Regions from separate parts of the Homo sapiens genome. Here region 2 is linked to region 1. Evidence: fine-mapped expression QTL. Tissue or cell type: cerebral cortex. Region 1 holds a variant in brackets; the other region holds the start of a gene. All regions are shown on one strand. Distances are between the middles of the regions.

Region 1 (2,926 bases):
CTGGAAAATAGAAAACTATATGTGAATGTTCAAGAAAGAATATGCATCAAAGAAGGAATTAACCTGGAGTGAGAAGGAACACGATGTGGTGGAAAACTGCATGAGCCCAGAGTCAGGAGACCTTCTGTAGCCATTAAGTAGTGATGCCCATTTCCCATCCGTGAATGCAGGATGCACTGTATAACGCTAAGAATGCTAGCCAGCTTTAGTGTTCATATATTATTTAAGATCTCTTATGCAAATTTTTAAAATGATCACACTCTTATAATGAGATATGAAAAATAGATTGGGGATGACTAGATGTTGAGCTGCTAAAAGCCAAATCTATTTTTTTCTCATCTTTGCAATAACTCAAAGTGCCTAGCATGGTGAAATTATGTAAAATTGAACCAAGATATGCTTCTCTATACAGAAGGAATTTAACATGGAGTCACTCCACAAGTACTGGTTTTTCCAATGGAGAAATGAATAAGAATGGACTCGTTCTGTTAAGAGGAAAGCTCAATCTCCCATGGTGCAGAATGAAGCTGTCTGTGAAGTGCTCTGCAGAGTACTCAAACCGGAAGCCAGATCACGGAGGCCTGGCGTACCTGCAGCAGTGGCTCTCAAACTATTTTACCCCAAAATAAACTTGGTGATTTGTTTAGAATACAAGTTCCCTTGTTTTAGCTTCCTACAGTCTAATTGTGTTGCCCCAGGCAGAAGCGCATGAGTCAGATGTACACTCAAGTTTCATTGCCAGAACCACCAAGTCCTTGCCCCTGACGTTGGGTCTTTCCTGTGTTTTCAACCTTTCGTCTCACTTTAAACCCTACCTCAATCCTTGCTTCAACCACGTGGAAGTGGCTCAAACATACCAGTTTATTCATGCCTCCATGCCTTTGTTATCAGCCCTCCCTCTATTTTAAAATGCTCTTGCCCTTAAAATGCAGTGTTCTGTTTCCCAGGTAACTGCCCACACATATTTCAAGACTCATCTATTTTAAATTTCTTCTCTGCCTTTCTTGTTTAGACTTGACCGCTCACTCCTTAGTGTCTTTACTTTAACCCTGACCTGTGATGTAACCTATAAAACATTTCTCCACTTATTTTTTATACATTTCTTTCTTCTCTATTACAGTATTTGATACGATAAGCACTTAATAAATGTTTGCTAAATGGATAAATGCATGAATGTATGAATGAATGAGATACATTCTAAAACAGTGCCTAAAGCATGGATTCTGCAGTTAGACTGCCTGGTTTCAAATCCTTTCTCTATCACTTACCAGGTGTATGAATTTAGGAAAGTTACTTTAAGCCTCTGTCTCAGTTTCTCAATTATAAATGGGAATGATAATATAGTATCTGCCTCATGTAGCTGTTAAGAGGTTTTAAATAAACTAATATTTGTAAAGCTGTAAAGCACTTAAAAGAATGTCTGGAACATAGTGTTATCAGCGTTTATAAAATAAACGAATATACTACAGCAAAGATGATGAATGTTTAAATTTATATCTAGAAACAGAGATTGAGAGCAGAGACAAATCCACAAGACGTAAGAAGAAAAAAGTGATGGGCTTGATGATTGAGGAAGAAAAAGGACTGGAATGAAGTCTTGGGATTCCAATGGTCACTGGAAGGGGTCGGCAAGCTTCTTCCATTAATTCATTGCCTTTAATTATTTGATCATAGGAAAGGAGAGTCTGGCCTTGTGGAAAAACACACAATCAGTTTCATTAGAAAAGAGAGAGTCAGATGTTTTTAAAACAGCAACAACAATATGCCCTGAATAGTAGAGAAACAAAAGAGCGATTGATCTACAAAGGCAAGACCCAGATTGAGA[C/A]CACAGTGAACCCTGCAAAACAGAGGAGCCCCTGGGTGGGAGGGGATATAACTGGAACTCTGGGAATGTAACGGGCATGGTGTGCTTGTCTGATGGACAGGGCAGCTTAGGGGAATAAGTCTCTGCAGCGTTGTAGTGAAGAGAGAATACGGGACAACTGCAGGACCACAGCTCAGCCAAGAGTAAGCATAAATTTAAACATATTTCTTGATTTCTCTAAAGTCTCTCTTTTCTGTTAAATACAAATAATAATGCATGCTTCATTCAGCAAGTTATTGTGAGGACTAAATGAGACAGTATTGAAGTTACTATGTAACAGTAAATAAGGTACAGATAATCCTCAGTACAAGCACGATAGTGTGGGACTGCAAAGATGATTGCGCAAAGCAATCTTAATAATCAATGAGAAAACTAATGATTGGGCCTTGGCCTTTAAAAAGTTTTGCCAAAACATCAAAATCTTTCTTGCTGTCATTGACAAAGGTACAAGCAAATAAAAATAGTAAAACTAATACCTAGTACAATATAACTTAAAACATGAGAAATGTTTAAAACTGAAGTTACTTTTCATAAAAACTTATCAAAAGTAGTTTAAACCATGCTTGCCTCCTTGTCATGTAACTAACAATGTGGAGCACCATCTTTCTTTACGCACTGGCGAATTATCATACGCTTTTCTAAGTTCGGATCGGCTTCCCGCATTGTATTCTTCGTTCTTTCAGTGTCTTGAAACACCTCCAAGAGTTTTTTCTAACGTGAAAATTTTCTGCCAGCACTACTTCCTCTAGGACATCTTCATTCTGTTCATCACAACTACCTTTCTCATTTATGTTAAGTTCTCTTTTAGTAAATTTCTGTGGCCTCATACCTAGAAACTGAAATGACAGCAATGTCAATATTCCATAGTCAGCTGTCTTCTTATCGGATCTAATTTCACATCCAGCATTATTGCTTTTCATTTCTTGGCTGCACTTTCGTCTGTTGCACAATTCCTTCTTTTAATCATCCGTTTTGTAAAATGTCATGTGAGTTTATCATGGGAAGACATGGAGGCAACACAATTACATGCTTTGCTGGGTGGTAACTGAGTAACAGATGTGC
Region 2 (2,926 bases), 67 kb before region 1:
ACATGGGAACAGGAGTTAGTACTTGTTAATTAGTCCTAGAGTTAGCGTTAGTACTTGTTAGTTAGTGTTAGTCCCAGAGTTAAGACAAAGAGCAACTTTAAAGTACAGAATCTTTCCCAAGAAGAGTAAATAAATCCTCATAGCATAAATCAAATTTAATGTTTGACAGTTCACCAGTTTTTATCATCTTTACAACAAACTCAGGTAGCTCTCTAGTAATTTGCCTACTCCATAAGGGGGCATTTATTTACCTCTTTACTATTAATTCTCAGATCAATAGAAGAGACATAAACTTTGAAGAAAAATTCATAATTATACTTCTGCCAGTTCCCTTCAGATTAATTTAGTGAACAGGTGGACAAATTCTCTGTGTCCCTGGAGAACAAGTGAAATATAATGAAAAAAACAGATCTGGGCAAGTACAGAAAACTAACGCCCAACTGAAGTTTTAAAACTTATATTGCAAAAGTGTATGGGTATTGAGAAGAGATGAAAGGTTGAAAAGTAATTTGAAATATGCTCAGGCCATTGCAATATACCCCATTATGATAGGGATTGAGTTATGCGCCATCATACATCTCTCCCATGTCAAGGACTTTTGAAAGGATATTAAGAGGTGACAAGCACATGAACTTAAAAAATATTTTTATAAAGACTGCCACCCATTTGTTTGGCTAATAAAAAGTCAGTAAGACTTCTGCTGAACACTCCGTTCTATGTCTAAATAGCCCATGCCAGGTTCCACTTCACAGGTGTCTCATTCAGCATGCCAGCTGCCAGAATGCCCAAGCTAAGTGTACAACTGCCCGGCACAGAAAGTGTGCATGTTTTTTACTGGGTCATGAAAGTTAGCCTTTGCTCTCATCACCACAGAGAAAAGTCAGAAGATAGCCTGTCTTAGTCAGGAAAAGAAAGTACAGCCTGTAGGAAGCAATTTGAGGGTGTTCCAGATCACACCAACAGCGGATGCTGCATCTGGGTAGTTCACGTACCCGAACAAAAATTTTAAAAATTTGGTGTGGCCTTTGCCATCCATTCACTCCTCAAAAACTACCATTTGCTTTCCCAGAAAGCAAGCTTTCCAGCCCCACAGCCACGCCCCCACGAGAGAAAAAGTCGCACTCACCAAATAGTGACAGGACCCCACACACCGTCCAGATGGTCAGAGACATGCCCACGCTGCCCGTGTTCTGGAGCACGCCCTTAGGAGAGATGAAGATTCCTGCTCCAATGATGGTGCCAATGATAATGGAGACTCCCCTCAGTAAAGTGACTTTCCTCTTCAGCTGCACTTTCTCCTGCCCAGGTGGCTCCTTGTTGCCCAGGGAAGGCAGCCTCCCGTTAACATTTCCCTGCAGGTAACCTCCTTTGGAGATGGTGGACACAACAGGCTTTCTGACCATAGTAGGGACACACGGGGGAAAAATAAAACAGAGGGAAAGAAAACAAAACTTTCAACTTTGGTGTCTCTTGGTGTTACTGATCGATGTCTTCCTCTGCTTTCAGACTGTCTCTCTCAGCGCTATAGTGTTCACAGGTGAAAACTCAAAGGTGTGCTTTTTCCTTCACAGCGATCTAATTACTACTCAGAAACACCTGTGTATGCATCGTGCTCTCAATTCTCCACCTCCTCGTTCCACCACTGCTGCTGCTGCTGCTGCTGCCGCCCTATCATTACAAACCAGCTCAGCTTCCTCATGGGCTTGTATTTAAGCGCCTGCCTGTCACACCAACTTACTACAGCTAAATGATGATGCAAATTCTCCAGGTTTGCATCAGCCACATGAGAAGCCTCCAGCATTACTCAGCTCTTTTTTTTAAAAAAAGAAAAAAACAGGAGGAGCTTGTTGCTCAACTGACCTAAGCTTTTTAGAGAACAAAGCACACACTTTAAAGAGATTTTAGCCAATCCAGAAGTAGTAAATTCGGAACAGACCTTCCCAGAGATTTAAAGCAACTCGTAGTGAGCAACAAAAGCTGTTCAAACAAAATGAAACAGGAAATAGTTACTTCATTTTAAGGAGTTTCTTTTTCTTTAATGCGTGTATAAAAACATTTTACATGCGACTGTTTTGTGAGTAGAATGTATCCTAAAGCTACATTGTTTATAACAACACAGTTTGAATTTCATAATTTGTGTAATGCTTTTTATTTTTTTATTTTGAGTTTTTTATAAGGCAATACAGTCAAATCCAATATTTACAAAATTAAAGATTCTACACTTTATACTTCTGTCACATACACACAACTATAAGCCTTCCTCAACATTAAAAGATAAAATTATTTCTTACTACTCATAATAAACCAGTATTTTAAATCACCATCCGAGTGTGACTAATACAAAATTCACCATGACTCCAGAAAATAGTCATTTTCTGATTCTCATTAGCACTAGGTGATTTTTTTGAACTATGTAAAAGATACATATCCTTCATTGTCATGTTGTTCCTTTGAATTACCAAAAAAAATTTCTAAGTTCAAAATTACACAATTACAATTACATAAAAATATGTATATAGCAAAAGCCTGTAAAGGAAAACAGAATGGTAGTTATAGAAAGTAATGATATTATGTATGACTTTTTTCCACATTATATAAACTATTGTTATTATTATAAATTTAAAATGCATTAAAAATGTAAGCTAAATTAAAATATTTACTTTGCAATAGTCAAAAAGGCAAAACATTTTTAAACCCTTCTAACTTTCTCAACCAAGTGTCAAGAAAAAACAAATATGAAAAGAAAAGAAATCCTAGATATCATTTTTGGCTATAGTTACATGTGGTTTTGGATTCAGTGAGAAGAATTGAATGTTATCATTACCCTGAAGCTACCTTTATACGCACCATTAAATAAGCTTCTGAACCTTTGAACAAAAACCACAAACAAAAAGCCTGTGTGCGAGAGGTTGGCAGGGAAAGAAGG

Direction of the effects. Positions count from the first base shown, and alleles are read on the strand shown. Sizes are in standard deviations (SD) of each study's normalised expression.
With allele C in place of A in region 1, the expression in cerebral cortex of the gene that starts at base 1,683 in region 2 is higher (small effect, 0.29 SD a copy in GTEx).

The links. PIP is the estimated chance that this variant, and not a neighbour inherited with it, causes the effect.
Region 2: SLC7A11 starts here. The variant in region 1 is fine-mapped to the expression of SLC7A11 in cerebral cortex (GTEx, PIP above 0.99). The same link has a PIP of 0.9 or more in nucleus accumbens.

Annotation. Positions count from the first base shown.
Region 1 is chr4:138,307,841-138,310,766 of GRCh38, forward strand. The region is part of intron 1 of LINC00498 (long intergenic non-protein coding RNA 498); the gene reads right to left. It overlaps LINC00499 (long intergenic non-protein coding RNA 499), which reads left to right and starts at 1,871. Exons shown (of 3, transcript NR_051987.1): 1 at 1,871-2,007. The variant C/A (reference allele first, on the strand shown) is at 1,826.
Region 2 is chr4:138,240,667-138,243,592 of GRCh38, forward strand. SLC7A11 (solute carrier family 7 member 11) reads right to left here and starts at 1,683. Exons shown (of 12, transcript NM_014331.4): 1 at 1,127-1,683. The coding sequence starts at 1,403. RefSeq lists enhancers at 1,029-2,228, 1,698-1,937.